Linked DNA regions of Homo sapiens: region 2 is linked to region 1. Evidence: fine-mapped expression QTL. Tissue or cell type: tibial nerve. Region 1 holds a variant in brackets; the other region holds the start of a gene. All regions are shown on one strand. Distances are between the middles of the regions.

What was found. PIP is the estimated chance that this variant, and not a neighbour inherited with it, causes the effect.
Region 2: SEC31B starts here. The variant in region 1 is fine-mapped to the expression of SEC31B in tibial nerve (GTEx, PIP above 0.99). The same link has a PIP of 0.9 or more in fibroblasts.

What each region holds. Positions count from the first base shown.
Region 1 is chr10:100,488,923-100,497,031 of GRCh38, reverse strand. SEC31B (SEC31 homolog B, COPII component) reads left to right here. Exons shown (of 26, transcript NM_015490.4): 18 at 601-774; 19 at 1,486-1,647; 20 at 6,149-6,326; 21 at 6,710-7,024; 22 at 7,271-7,329; 23 at 7,634-7,780; 24 at 8,058-8,109. Among named protein-coding and RNA genes, the nearest start is that of SEC31B, 27 kb to the left of the region's middle. The variant T/G (reference allele first, on the strand shown) is at 3,391.
Region 2 is chr10:100,514,827-100,522,932 of GRCh38, reverse strand. It overlaps SEC31B (SEC31 homolog B, COPII component), which reads left to right and starts at 3,072. Exons shown (of 26, transcript NM_015490.4): 1 at 3,072-3,151; 2 at 5,936-6,059; 3 at 6,714-6,837. The coding sequence starts at 5,981.

The DNA of each region.
Region 1 (8,109 bases):
GGAACCACGGTGTTAGGGAGGAGCGAAAGGTCCTGAATGTCTGGGATCTTCTCCTCTTCCCTCAGAGAAGACTAAGCAGCAGCTGCTTCAGTGTTAGTCTTCATAATTTTTTTCCTATTTCAGGTTTGGTTTTACAGATGTATTCAGTACTTGAGTAATTGTGGCTTGGCCCTTCTATTAGCTACTGTGGAAAGTTCTGTGGATCTAAACTTCCAGGTGTTCTGTGGGTGACCACAGAAAGTGGGGGTCACAGACTCATGGAGAGACAAAAGTCGCACATGAAACAATTAGTCTGACAGAGTCTGTGGTTGGTGATGTATAAGCAGAAAGGGTAAAAAAGCAAAAGGAAGAGGTAGAGATGTACAAAAATCTAAGACCCAGATGGGTCCAGTTAAATCCAATCCTAACAGCTTGGGAGGTGAGGCCAGGTGGCCCTTCTCTGTCACAGTTCTTACGTGTCATCATCTGCTGCCTTCACCTAGGTATGGTCAGGTGCCCTCATCTGTACCCATAGTGGGAGATCCCTGAATGAGCTGCGTGGACTTAGAGAGCAGGATATGCCTCATTGAAGGCTTACCACCCTCATCCTTGCCCTTACAGGACCTGATGGAGAAGGTGATGGTTCTTAACAGGAGCTTGGAGCAACTGCGGGGTCCTCATGGGGTGAGCCCAGGCCCTGCCACAACCTACAGGGTCACTCAGTATGCCAACCTCCTGGCAGCCCAGGGCAGCCTGGCCACTGCCATGAGCTTTCTACCCAGGGACTGTGCTCAGGTAAGTGGGGCCATGTGGAGAGAGCAAACCATTTCATTCAGTCATCTAACATTGATTGAGCACTTCCATATTCCAGGCACTATGCTAATGCTGAAGCTCCTAGGATAGATAAGATGGAATCCCTTAAGCACCTCACAATCTACTGGGGGAAGATCAGATGTTGATGACTTATAGTGCCATAACAGAAGCTTATACTGAGCACTGTGGGAGTCCAGGGAAGGGACTGATTTTTGCCTGGAGAAGTCAAGGAAGGCTTCTCAATGGTTAAAACAGCTGAGCTGGACCTTCAAAGAGAAGTAGCTTACCAGCAGATATAGAGCATTCTAAGCAGAAAGAATAGCAAGGAGGGAGGCATGCAAGTGTTTGGCAGGGATTCAGGAACCTTGAGTCATCTCTAAGGGGGCTAGAGTATAGAGCGGGGGTGTCCAAGGGTCAGAATACAGTCGTGGGTGCTTAGTTTCTGTTTCTGGTTGGGCCAGTAAAGCCCCTTCCTCATCCCGGTTTTCCACTTATCACTAGAGACAAACCAAAAACCATGGCTTCAGGCTGCTAAAAACCTAAAACAAAACAAAACAGAACAGAACAACAACAACAACAAAATAACACAGGTTGGACAAGCTTGGTGTAGAGGGTCAGCTGAAATTTGACTGCTACCTGGGGCCTTGATTGTTTTAATTTCTTGACACAGCTCTTCCTCATTAAAACTTATAGCCACCAGTTCAGCAGCTAAGAGATCGGCTTTTTCATGCTCAAGGTTCTGCTGTCTTGGGCCAACAGTCTCCCCCTTTCCCCTTCCCCCGGATTGTTGTGGGAGCTACCCTCCACTCTAAAGAGACATCATCTTACAGATTGGGATCCCAGCCTTCTCACCAGGTAAGACCTCGTTTGTTCATTCATTTGTTCATTCAATAATACGTGCCAAGCATGGTTCTGGGCACTTGGAATATATTGTGAACAAAACTGATGAAAATTCCCAACTTCCATAGAACATAGATTCAGTTCTTTTTATAATAAATAACTGTTTATTGAACTACTAGGCTCTTAGGACATAAAGGTGCAAAAATTGTGATACTTGCCCTCAAGTAGCTCATAGTGTAGTCGAAAGATAGATATGTAAAAAATAGCTACAGTAGGCCTGGCGTGGTGGCTCACGCCTGTAATCCCAGCACTTTGGGAGGCCAAAGCGGGCAGATCATGAGGTTTGGAGTTCGAGACCATCCTAGCCAACATGGTGAAACCCCATCTCTACTGAAAATACAAAATAATGATCTGGGCATGGTGGCACGTGCCTGTAGTCCCAGCTACTCGGGAGGCTGAGGCAGGAGTATCACTTGAACCTGGGAGGTGGAGGTTGAAGTGAGCCCAGATCATACCACTGCACTCCAGCCTGGCAACGGAGCGAGACTCCGTCTCAAAAAAAAAAAAAAAAAAATAGCTACAGTAAAATTCATAAATACCATGATTGGGGTATGGCAAGGGGCTATAAGATCACACAGATGAAAGTAGTTTACTCTGTATGGTGAGGTTGTGGGGGCAGTCCAGGGAGTGTTTCAGAACAAGTCGGATGTTTGATCAGAGTTTCAAAGATTAAAAGGTTTTAGGCAAAGGGATGAGCAAGTGAAGACTGTTTCAGGCACAGAGAATAGCATGTACAAAGGCACTGAAGCAAGAGTAAGCCGAAGCCTTTTGAGAATTACTATTATTTAATTGGGGCTGCAACACAGGTGTTTGTGGCTGTGAAGTTAGATGAAGCTGGAACAACAGGTAGGAGTTAGATCACTAAGGACCTAGCATTCTGTGCTAAAGAACTTAAACTTGACAGGGAGGAGCTATTGAACAGTTTTAGGAAGAGTGACATAATTAGCTGTATGTTAGGAAGGGCCAGGCTGGAGGGAGTTAGGCTATAGTAAGGGATGATGAAGACATGAAATAACTAAAGCTAGCCAGTGAGGTTGGATTTGAAATACTTAGTACTTAGTAGATAGAACTGACAGAATTGCTGATAGTTTGGAGAGGTGTGTGTGTGGTTGGGGGTACTGAGGGAGAGGAAAGAGGTTCTGGCCAAAGTGCCCGGGGGGATTGGATACTGTTAAGATGTGAGGCCAGAAGCTTGCTAGAGCTGCCGGAGAACAGAATCCAGGGAGATTTGGATACAGTTACCAGGCAGAAGCTCTGATGGCTCATCTTGTCCCACCTTCAATCCCCACCCTAATTCCTTTTCTTTTTTTCCCTCCCTTTCCTCCCTCCCTTTCTTCCCTCCCTTGTCTCCCCTTTTCCCCTTCCCCTCCTCTCCTCTCTCTCTCCCTCTCCCCGTCTCTTTTCATTTAAAAATAACCATAGATTCACAGGAGGTGGCAAAGAAATGTACTGGGATGTCTCCTGCATCCCAACAACACCCCGCCCCGTGTCGGCATCTCACACAACCACAGTACGCTATCAAAACCAAGAAATTGCCATTAGTACAATCCATGGATTCAGATTTCAGATTCAGTCTCCACCAGTTTTACATATTGTTAGGTGTGTGTTTATGTGTGTTTATGCAGTTTTGTCACATTGTGGTGTGTAACCACCACCAAAATCAAGATACTCAATTTTACCATCACCACAAGACTCTCT[T/G]GTGTTACCTCTTTTATAGCTGCACTTATTCTGCCTCCCTCATCCTTGGCTTCACCAATATGTTCTCCAGCTCTATCATTGTTATTTAACGATTGTTACTTAAATAGAATCATGGCAATATGTATCCTTTTGAGATTGGCTTTTCTCCCTTAGCATAACTTCTTTGAGGTTCATTCAAGTTGTTCTGTGTACCAGTAGTTCACTCATTCTTATTGCAGAGTAGTATTCCATGGTGTGAATGTACCATGGTTTTAATTTTTTTTTTTTTTGAGATGGAGTCTTGCTTTGTTGCCCAGGCTGGAGTGCAGTGGCGCGATCTTGGCTCACTGCAAGCTCTGCCTCCCAGGTTCACGCCATTCTCCTGCCTCAGCCTCCCGAGTAGCTTGTACTACAGGCGCCCGCCACCACGCCCGGATAATTTTTTGTATTTTTAGTGGAGATGGGGTTTCACCATGTTAGCCAGGATGGTCTTGATCTCCCGACCTCGTGATCCGCCCGCCTCGGCCTCCCAAAGCGCTGGGATTATAGGCATGAGCCACCGCGCCCGGCCCCAGTTTTAATTTTTTTAGCCATTCAAACTTTGAAGGACATTCGGATAGTTTCCAATTTGGGGTATTATGAGTAAAGCTGCTATGAGTATTCAAATACAAGTTCCTAACTGACATCTTTACTAGGTTCAGTCTTTCAGTCCATGAATGTGGCATGTTTCTCCATCAGCGTTTTATAATTTTTGTCACACCAATCCTGTACATATTTTGTCCAATTCATACTTAAGTATTTAATTTTTTATATCACCTGTCAGCTCATGCCTACTAAGTATTTAATTTTTTTCTTCAGCAGTTTAAAATCAAATTTCTTGGTTTCCACTTGTTCATTGTGAGTATATAGAAATGCAGTTGATTTTTATGTGTTGATCTGGTTATATCCTGTGACTTTCCTGAATAGTTATAGAAGTTTTTTGTGGATTCCATGGGGTTTTCTAATAGACAGTCATGCTGTCTACAAATCTGCAAATAGATAGTTTTCTTTCTTTTCAATCTATATGCATTTAATTTCTTTCTTATGCCTTATTGTAGTGACTAGGACTTCCAGTCTCTGTTAAATAAGAATAGTGAACATAAGCCAGGCGCTGTGGCTCATACCTGTAATCCCAGCACTTTGGGAAACTGAGGTGGGTGGATCACCTAAGGTCAGGAGTTGAGACCAGCCTGGCCAACATGGTGAGACCCCATCTCTACTAAAAATATAAAATTAACCGGGCATGGTGGCGCATGCCTGTAATCCCAGCTACTCAGGAGGCAAGGCTGGAGAGTCGCTTGAACCCGGGAGGTGGAGGTTGCAGTGAGCTGAGATTGTGCCATTGCACTCCAGCCTGGGCACCAAGAGCGAAACTCTGTCTCAAAAAAAATAAATAAATAGTGAACATGAATGTTCTTGCCTTGTTTCCAGTCTTAGAGGAAAAACATTCAATATTTCAGCATTAAGCATGATGTTAGCTTTAGGTTTTTCACAGATGCTCTTTATGAGACCAAGGACATTTCCCTCTATTCCTTGTGTCTTAATCCATTTTGTGCCACTATAACAGAATACCACAGACTGGGAAATTTATAAAGAACAGAAATTTATTTCTTATGGTTCTGGAGTCCAAGATCAAGGCACCAGCAGGTATGGTTCCAGCAGGTACGGTTCCACCCTCTAGTTGCAAGATGGTGCCTTGCTGCTGTGTTCTCACATGGCAGATAGCAGATGTGCAAGAGAAAGCAAACCCACTCCTGCAAGTCATTTTTGTAGTGGCATTAATCCATTAATGAGGGCAGAGCCCTCATGACCTAAACACTTACAAAAAGTCCCACTTTCCCAACACTGTTGCATTGAGGATTCAGTTTTCAACACATGACTTTGGGGAGCATATTCAGACCATAACACCTTGTGTACTAGATCATGAATCGGTGTTGAATTTTGTCAAATGTTTTTTCTGCATCATTTCTGTCATCATGTTATTTTCATTCTTTAGTTTGTTGGTATAGGGGATTAAATTGATTGGTTTTTAAATATCTTGGATCAGCTTTGTATGACCTGGAATCAATCCCACTTTCTTGTGGAATATTATTTTTTATATACATTATTTGATTTGCTAAAATTTTGTTGAGGATTTTTGTGTCTAAGTTCATGAGAAATATTGATGTGTAGTTTTATTTTCTGCTATCTTTTTCTGTTGCTGGCATCAGGGTAATACTGGCCTCATGAAATTAGTTAGGAAGTGTTCCTTCTATTTTCTGGAAGAGATTACATAAACTTTGCATTAATTCTTTGACTGGTGAAATTCTCCAGTGAAACCATCTAGGCCTGGAGATTTCTTTTTTGGGAGCTTTTAAATTACAAACTCAATTTCTTTAATGGTTATAGGACTATCCAGATCTTCTTTCATTGTGACTGAGTTTTGGTAGTTTATGGTTCTTGAGGAATGGGTCCATTTCTGATAAGTTGTCAGATTTATGAATGTAAAGTTTTCTGTAGTATTCGTTTATATTTTTAATGGCTTCAGGGTCTGTTGTAATAGTCCCTGTTTCATCTCTGATGATGATTTATATCTTCTTGCTTTTTATCTTTATCAGTTTTTAGATGTTTATCAATTTTATTGATTTTTTTCCTCAAAGAACTAGTTTTTGTTTCATTAATTTTCCCTATTATTTTTCTGTTTTCTATTATTTACCTTTCTCTTTCCTTTCCAAGAGCTGATGTTTTTTTCTCTTCATAGGTCCCAACTCCATCTCCAAGGCCAAGGGTTTTCACCCCTCAGTCATCACCAGCGATGCCCTTGGCACCTTCCCATCCTAGCCCTTATCAGGGTCCCAGGACACAGAATATAAGTGACTACAGGGCACCTGGGCCCCAGGCCATCCAGCCTTTGCCTTTGAGCCCTGGGGTAAGGCCTGGTGAGTGAGTCACTGAAGATCTATCTGGGCAGAGCACAGAGGTCTCAGGAAAGCAATTGGCATGGCCAGCATGGATTTGGGAAGCTGTATGTCTGTCTAGTGAGAGGAGCTTGGAAGTTGAAGTCTGAATTCCTAATGCTATCACTGGCTTCGTACCTTTGGCAATATACCAAAGTGTTGTGTTGCTTATTTCAATGCTATGGGATTGTTTTGAAGGTCAAATAAGGAATATAGTTAAAAGTATTTTGTAAATTATAGATTTCCATATACATGTATTAATCATTTATTATTTTTTTATTGCAATCCTGTTTCTCCCTGATATGCTCTGAGTTGCTCCTGAAATGAAGTTTAGTGACAAATGACCTATTTCTGTTCTGCTTCAGCTTCATCTCAGCCACAGCTATTAGGAGGGCAAAGGGTGCAAGTTCCTAACCCGGTGGGATTCCCTGGGACATGGCCTCTTCCTGGTTCCCCTCTACCCATGGCATGCCCAGGCATCATGCGACCTGGCTCTACCTCCCTGCCTGAGACTCCTAGACTGTTCCCTCTGCTTCCTCTGAGACCACTAGGTCCCGGCCGCATGGTCTCCCACACCCCAGCCCCTCCTGCAAGCTTCCCTGTGCCATACCTTCCAGGGGACCCAGGTGCCCCATGCTCTAGTGTCCTCCCAACCACTGGCATCTTGACTCCTCACCCAGGTCAGTCTTCCTTCCATGGATCCCTCTTCTGGGTTATTGCCTCCCCTGCTCCTCTCACTACTTTGGGAGTCTTTCCTCAAGTCAGAGGGCTAGGGCCCTGTTGGGTGGAGGGTGGCTGGGAGTGTAGATGGTCTGCAGAGGGAGGTATGGTGAACTCCAACTCAAAGAATGCTTCCAGCCTTCAGATAAAAAACTTCCAGTGTTTTTCACTATGCGCCGAAAAACCTCTATCTTTTTATTCTATAGGACCTCAAGATTCCTGGAAAGAAGCCCCAGCCCCCAGGGGAAACCTCCAGAGGAACAAGGTCAATGCATCTTTCCCTACCCACTCCCTCGCACATTCACCAATGACCACGTTCTAATTCCTTGGAGGATTCAGTCAGTCCTTCCCCTTCTCAGACTGTCCCCGCCCTCCTCCCACTTACTCTTCTTTCCTCAGAACCCTCTTCTTTCTCTTTCCCTCTTACACACATACACCAGTCTCCTCACTTCCCAGTTTCCCACACTCACTCTTCTGTCTCCTTGTTCACTGTCATTCCTGCCACTCCCCAAAACCAGAGCCATGGAGTCTCTCAGGTTAGACTCATGTCTTTCCTTCTGTCTCTTTAGCTGCCAGAGACATTTATGCCCCCAGCACCAATTACTGCTCCAGTTATGAGCCTCACCCCTGAGCTACAAGGGATTCTTCCCTCACAGCCCCCTGTCTCCAGTGTGAGTCATGCTCCCCCAGGAGTTCCAGGAGAACTCAGCCTGCAGGTGACAAGGACAATGTATTCCCCTCCCTTGGGAAACCTTCCAGCCCTCCTTGGGTGCAGGTCATGGTAGATGGGCCTCATTCCTCAAGGCATGTGCTGAGGGAGACTGGGGGCAGGTACCAGGTGTCCTTACTGCAGAGAAAGGGAGGCTGCTCATCTCCCCAACTCTGCTGTAATGGGAACAGTGTGACTGTGAGTCACTGGGGACTAGTCCTTAGGGAAGCCATGAGAAGGACAGCTTGCCCCTCTGGCCTTTCTCCCTGCTTCTTTATCAGCAGCTTCAGCACCTGCCACCTGAGAAGATGGAAAGGAAGGAGCTGCCCCCAGAGC
Region 2 (8,106 bases), 26 kb before region 1:
CCCAGGAGGTCAAGGTTGCGGTGAGATGGTGGCACTGCACTCCAGCCTGGGCGACAGAGCCAGACCGTCTCAAAACAAAAAAAAACAAAAAAAACTCCTTAATAATAGTGGTTACTTGGAAAAAAATGTGCTCTAACGTGTTTCAAGTATATTACAGGACTGATAAGTGTTTTTGTCCTGTCTGCCTAAGGCTGCGACTGCCTCTGATCTTATTTCCGTTATAAGAATATTCCTTATTCCAAAGCAGCTTCTGAATCATAGCTTCTTAATAAGTTGACATTACCTGTATTTATGAATTGGAGGACAGTCAGTGAGTTACTACTGAACATGTTCATAGCTTTGATTACTTTTGATGACTCATCCACACTCCTATAACAGTCTTAGAGAAAAACTATGTTTTTGAGAGTCTATCATTCATCTGTTTTTTGTTTTATTTAGAGATAGGATCTTCCTCTGTTCCCCAGGTGGAAGTGCAGTAGCACAATCATAGCTCTCTGTAGCCTCAAACCCCTGGGCTCAAGGGATCCTCCTTACTCAACCTCCCTAGTAGCTAGGATTACTGGGATGTACGAACCTAAGTTTCTTATTTTTTGTTGAGGTGGGATCTTGCTATGTTGCCCAGGCTGGCTCAAACTCCTGGCCTCAAGCAATCCTGCCTCAGCTTCCTAAAGCACTGGGAATACAGGCAGGAGCCACTGTACCCAGCCCTCATGTCTATTTTTAAGTGAACCAACCCATATTCCTTTGGGGACATATTCTTAAGTTACAGTATATTGCCGGAAAACCTGTCCCATAGAAAAGCATACATTTTATGTGACCAAAAGAAGCAAGTTCATTCAAATTAGATGTGGAGTCTTAGTTGTGCAGGCAGTGAGAGACCTTTTGTGAGGTCAGGGAGTGGATACTTGTGGAATGCTATTCTTTGAAGGTCCCCACTGGCTTTTTATCTGTCTTCATTCTCTATAGCATTTGATAATCATTTCCTTAACAAACACCTGTGTGTCTAATATGTATCAAACACTGATAAGCCCTGGAGATATAAAACTGAGCAAGACAAAGTAATCACCTTCAAATATTACATAGGAGACCAGCAGTTATAATACAAAGTGAAAATAATTCTTTATCATTATTACTATTGAGACAGGGTCTCACGCTGTTGCCCAGGCTGCAGTGTAGTGGTGTGATCACAGCTCACTGCAGCCTCTACCTCCCAGGCCCAAGCGGTCCTCTCACTGTAGCCTCCCAAGCAGCTGGGACCACAGGGATGCACCAACACACCTGGCTAATTTTTGTATTTTTTGTAGAGACAGGGTTTCACCATGTTGCCCAGGCTGGTCTTAAACTTGTGGGCTCAAGCAATCCACCTGCCTTGGTCTCCCAAAGTGTTGGGATTATGGGTGTGGGCCACTATGCCAGGCCAAAAAGAATTTTTTTTTTTTTTTTTTGAGACATGGTCTCACTCTGTCACCCAGGCTGGAGTGCAGTGGCATGATCTCAGCTCACTGCAACCTCTGCCTCCCAGGTTCAAGTGATTCTCATGCCTCAGCCTCCCGAGTAGCTGGGATTACAGGCACATGCCACCACGCCCAGCCAATTTTTTCGGTATTTTTTGGTAGAGATGTAGTTTCACCATATTGGTCAGGCTGGTCTTGAACTCCTGACCTCGAGTGATCTGCCCGCCTCAGCCTCCCAAAGTGCTAGGATTACAGGCATGAGCCACTGCTCCCAGCAAGAATTCTTAAGAGGTGTGAGTTGAGAAAGTGCACTTTTAATTTGGCTTAATCATGTCCTACCCGAAACTGTGACTTAAGCTTCTGGTTCAAATTTCTTTAGGAGTATTCCATCAGTAACTCTTCTGCCTCCTTCTCTCAGGTTTAGTTTTTAACCCTGTTTACTTTTCCTCAGGCTTCATTCCCTGTTGTGCCAGCTAAGAAGTTCAGGAAATACTTGAGTACTTAGTAGGTAGGAAGCGTGGGCTAGGCACAGATAATGCACTGAATTACCTTCTGTCTAACTTCAAAATTGCCAGATCCACATGGAAGGGAACTGGAGTCGTGTCACAATGAGTTGGGCTCCATCATGATAACTGGCCCCCCATCTTTGGAGGTGTATCAGGCAGGAATACAGAGAATTCATGCGTTAAGCATAAGTTTCTAAGATTTAAAGCTGCCTACAGAATTTTTTTTTTTTTTTTGAGATGGAGTCTCTGTCACCCAGGCTGGAGTGCAGTGGCGTGATCTCAGCTCACTGCAACCTCCACCTCCCGGGTTCAAGCTATTCTCATGCCTCAGCCTCGTGAGTAGCTGGGACTACAGGCCTGCACCACCATGCCCGGCTAATTTTTATATTTTTGGTAGCGACGGAGTTTCACCATGTTGGCCAGGCTGGTCTCGAACTCCTGACCTTTGGTGATATGCCCACCTTGGCCTCCCAAAGTGCTGGGATTACAGGTGTGAGCCACTGCACCCGACCTGTCTACAGAACATTTTTATTTGGAAGTGGCACAATTTCTTCAACATAAAAAATACATTATCGGCTGGAATATCACCTGTGTTCTTGCAGCTCCAGAGGATAACACCCCTCCTATGTTCCTCAAATATTTCAGGAAGCCCCTGGCCCTGTAGTCTCACCCTCCATACACTTATAGCCCTTAATTCAACCAAGTTTTGGGCACCAGTTTCTGCTGGGCTGCAGTGCAACACTCACTGCCATTTACAGCCTCGATTGCTTTTTACGTTTTCAACTAAATGGATTCCACTGAGGGCTCCTGGGGCCAGGGCCGGGTCTTCTCCCGCTTCAATACATAGATAATGAGTTAGTATTTTCCCTTTTCAGAGACTGGCCCTAGAGCCTGGCTCAAACTGAATAGACCAGAACTTACTGGTCCAGATCTGACCCGCTGCGCAATCACAGGGTAGGTGAGGGAGGCCCGGTTAAAAGCTATAATCCTGTTTGGAAACGTTCTCCGTGGGTCTGTCAGTGTCTCGGGCTCGGCGCCCGCGGAGCGTGTTTCCGACGGTGCCCTGCCGGGGTCCGCGCCGCTTTGGTCCTCCGCAGCCGCCGTCCACAGCGCCCGGCTCCGCGCGAGAGCCCTGCCAGAGGAGCGGCTCCGGCCGCCGCGCCTGACCCTTGTCCGGGGTCTTCCGCACAGGTTGGTTCGCCCCGCCGGTCTGGGGTCCCTGGTAGCAGAGATTGCGCTGGGGACCCGGAGCACTGCTCCTTTCTCGGCAGAGCGCGGAGGGGAGCCCGCTTGCTGCGGAGCCCCCGGCCCGCGCCTGCCCTGCCCGCGGGTCCGGGCCTCGGGGGCCTCCACTACGTCTACCCTTGAATTGGATCCGGCTCTACTGTCCCTGCCGCACGGGAACCCCCAGCCGGATGAGGGTCTCCCTGTTCACTGCTGCCTTGCGCCTTCCCATCCGCCTTGGTCCTGACCTGGCCCAGCCGAGGCCGTCCGGTGTCGCTGCGTTTGGGCTGGGCGGGAAGGTCTGTCATTGCTGACCCTGGCGCGCCGCGCTTCGGCGACAGCGGGAAAGAGGCTGTGCTGACCGTCCTCCCTAGGGACTGGACTGCCAAGGGTAGCTGGTGCCCTCCTGCACGGCAGGTCTGTCGAGCATTTCATTGGTCATCTCCCCCTCACGCCCCCATGGCCAATCTGACCCCAGCGGGGGCCCTTTTTTTGTGAATAGATGCCTCTTAACAATGTGAATTAAGAGCCCATTTTCCCAGTTCCTAGACTGTCAGCGATTAAAACACTTTCTAGGGTTTACTTGCGACTAGTACAGTGGTTAGAAATACGGGCTCTTGATGCTGATGGGGGTTCACATCCCGGCCTAGCCAGTTGTCATCTCTAGAAAATGGGGATAATCATAGTACTTACCTGATAAGACCACTGAGAGAATTAACTGAGATATGCACATCAAATGCACAGCTGCTTATCGCAGCTCCTATTTTTGTTGTTAGGGAATCTTTTCCCAGAAACATTAAAATGGCTGTGACCAGCAGGTGGCACTGGTGACTGTATAGTAGAGTGTTGAGCTGGTCACAGAATACGTGATAGTAGCCACAAGTGTTTAAAGGTGCTTTGGAAATCTTGGCTTAATGGGCAGGCTTAAACTTTCTTCACGCTAGAAAGTACCTTAGAGATTAAGTAATACTATCTCCTGTTTTTGTAGGTGAGACTGATCTGACTATAGCTTACTCAAGCAGGTCACAGTAGGTCCCAAGCTTTCTCCTCAAGTTCAGTGTAATTTTTAAAAATCATTTCTACCTGTTTGCTAGCCTGTTGGGATGGGACCTTGAATATACATTGGAATTAGATCAGAAACCACAGAGTTAAAATGGATGTCCACATTCGAGCTTTTACCATATGCCAGACATTCGTTTGGAAACTAGTTACAACATGGTGAACAAAAGCCGACACAGTGTCAGCTCTCATGGAGCTTGCATATTAGTGGAAGAGACTGACAATGTCAATATAAATAAATATGTAATTATAAATTACTAGGAAGAAAAAAACTGAGGCTTTTTGTGATTGGGTAGTTCACTTATTTGGGGAAGTAAGCTGAGCCCAGAAAGATATAAGGAGCCAGTCATGTCGAAAGTGAAGGGAAGAGCATTCAAAGTATAGGGAACAGCATTTGTAAAGGCTCTAAGGAAGGAAAATGTCAGGAAATTAAAGGCTAGTGTGGCTGAAGCACAATGAATGAGAAAAGTATTAAAAGATGAAGTTGAAGTGGTAGGCTGGAGCCTTTGGGCAGGGCTCAAAGAAGTTTGAATTTTATTCTGTGTGTGATAGAAATCATTGAAAGATTTTAAGCATGGAATGCCAAAATCATTTTTTATTTTAGAAGTTCACTCCTGCTGCTGTGTAAAGAACGAATTGGGTAATGGCTTGAGTAGAAAGGGGATAGCTAGTTGGGAGGTTGTTGGAGTACTCCAGGTGAGAGATGATACAATCAAAAAGGCTGTTGGCAGCGAAAATAGAGAAAAGTAGACAGATTGAGATATATTTTGGAGGTTAAATCAAGGAGACTAAATGATGGATTAGAAGAGAATGAGGGAGAAGGAGGGATCAAGAGGGATTTTCAGGCTTCTGGGTTGAGCAATTGGGTGGATAGTGGAACCATTTACCAAGATGAAAAAAACTGGAGGAAGAACAGAAGAGATTGTGACTTTGCTCCTTTCTGAAAAAAACAAATAAAAAAAGACCATAAAAGATGGTAGAATAGAGAACTCCATTTTAGACAGACTAAAATGGGAGTTCCCTCCCCCATTAAGTATCTACTATATCCAAGTGAAATATTTGATTGGAAATTGCGTATAAGCAGCTGATCACTTGAGGTCAGGAGTTCGAGACCAGCCTGGCCAACACGGTAAAACTACGTCTCTACTAAAAATACAAAAATTAGCCAGGCATGGTGGCACATGCCTGTTATCCCAGCCACTCGGGAGGCTGAGGCAGGAGAATCACTTGAACCCAGGAGGCAGGGGTTGCAGTGAGCTGAGATCGTGTCACTGCACTCCAGCCTGGGTGACAGAGCAAGACTTGGTCTAAAAAACGAAAAGAAATTGCATATAAGAACTTGGAGCTTAGAGGAGAGATTTGTGATGGTGATATAAATTTGGGGATCATCAGCATATGGGTGCTATTTAAAGCCAAGGAAATGGACAAACATCACTGAGAGATTGTCTGGTTTGATGGTTATCACCACTGGACCTGTGGTAGCCATTGTGGTTGAGTATCATTTGAGGTTTAAAGCATTACATTTCAGTAATTGGGTGAATGAACTATCTTTAGATCTGCAGATGGTCATGTATTTGTCACTCTGTGTTGCCCTGAAATGCCCTATCTTGTGATGGAGAAAGACAAACAAGAACTCTTGTCCGCAGATGCTCCCTGGATCTGGCTGTTAAGTTTGCTGGTTTCTATTTTCAGTGGGCTGAGGGCCATGTCAGTTTTCTGCCACCTACAGGATAGACCATGAAGCTGAAGGAACTTGAGCGGCCAGCTGTCCAGGCATGGAGCCCAGCCAGCCAATACCCTTTGTATCTGGCCACAGGTATGGTGACACTGTGAATTAGGATCCACTGGGAGTACATAAGTTGAGGGGAAACTTAGTATCTAGAATTATTTATTGAACATCAGAGAAAGCTCTCAGATCATAGAAAGATAGGGTGGCTCACAGCATAAGCAAGGAGATATTAGGTGTTTTGGGTACCTGAGGGCTGCCTAGGACTATGGCTCAAGGTTAGGTACGTCTTTTTTTTTTTTTTTTTTTTTTTTTGAGACAGAGTCTCACTCTGTCGCTCAGGCTGGAGTGCAGTGGCGCGATCTTGGCTCACTGCAAGCTCCGCCTCCTGGGTTCATGCCATTCTCCTGCCTCAGCCTCCTGAGTAGCTGGGACTACAGGTACCCACCACCACATCTGGCTAATTTTTTTTGTAGTTTTAGTAGAGACAGGGTTTCACCATGTTAGCCAGGATGGTCTCGATCTCCTGACCTTGTGATCTGCCCACCTCGGCGTCCCAAAATGTTGGGATTACAGGCGTGAGCCACCGCGCCCAGCCAACGTTTTCTTGCTTTTGTGGAGTTACCTTTGAGAAAGGGTATACCCAGCCCTCTTCTGTTCCTTCTCTTCTTCACTCCTTAACCTTCTTATACCTGAAATCCATGCATATATTGTTGCTCATATGCTGCCTTTTCTTGTGCCTAGGAACATCTGCCCAACAGCTAGATTCCTCCTTCAGCACAAATGGCACATTGGAAATATTTGAGGTTGATTTCAGGGACCCTTCTCTGGACTTGAAACACAGAGGAGTCCTTTCTGCCTTGAGCAGGTATTGTCTGATCTATTGATGGGTATACAGGGTAGATACTGACGTGGAATCCTGGGAGCAGTGTGTGTTTCTTAGGGCTCATGAGGAGCCAAGTGAGGGAAGAAGGAGCTTTGCCAAGTTGGAGAAAAGTTAATTCTGGGCTTATTTTGCAAAAGGATTTAAAAAACAACCACCCCCCCCCTTTCCAGTCAGCAGCAATAGCAGTGTCAGGCTGAATGCATGTGATAGAGATGCCTCAGACAAGCCTGGACCCACGTGTACCTGGTCTGTCTTTGAACCCAGAGATATTGGCTCCTTCCTCCCTTGGCTCTTGTGAAGATAAACACCTTACACAATATCACCCTCTCTGCCAACAAGGAAGAGAACGAATGATCCTCTCCTTATTGCTTTTAGACACTGATTGGTTCTCATGGATTTCATGGCTCTTGCAGGCTTCCAGCGCTAGATACTATCATTCATTGAGCACATGTATACATGCCAGACACTGTGCTAGGGGCTCTGTACATTTTATTTATTCCTCATAATAAACCTAAGTGATAAGTACCATATTTCCATTTTACATAGGAGGGAACTGAAACTCTGAGAAGCTAGGATTTAAGTCAAGGCCTATCTGTGTCCAAAGCCTACCTTCTTTCCATCATTCTGCCCTTCTTCTAAAGGTCTTGTAAAGTTGAGGCTTACAATCTGAAGCAATGGTCTCCAAATGTTTATATCATCAGAAAAAATGTGAATATTCATTATACTCAAGTTATATATTCAATATAAATGTATACATGTACTACTATACCGTTTTTGTTTTTGTTTGGAACAGGGTCTTACTCTGTCGCCCAGGCTGGATTGCAGTGGCACGATCACGGCTCACTGCAACCTCCACCTCCTGGGCTCAAGCAATCCTCCCGCCTCAGCCCCCTGAGTAGCTGGGACTGCAGGCATATGCCACCACACCGAGCTAATTTTTTATATTTTTAGAAGAGATGGGGTTTTGCCATGTTGCCCAGGCTGGTCTTGAACTCCTGAGCTCAAGCGATCAGCCCCCTTGGCCTCCCAAAGTGCTGGGACTATAGGTGTGAGCCACTGAGCCAGCTGGCTCTACTATTTTTTTTTTTTTTTTTTTTGAGATGGAGTCTCACTCTCTCGCCCAGTCTGGAGTGCAGTGGGGTGATCTCAGATCACTGCAACCTCTGTTTCCCAGGTTCAAGGGATTCTCCTGCCTCAGCCGCCCGAGTAGCTGGGACTACAGGTGCGCGCCACCACACCTGGCTAATTTTT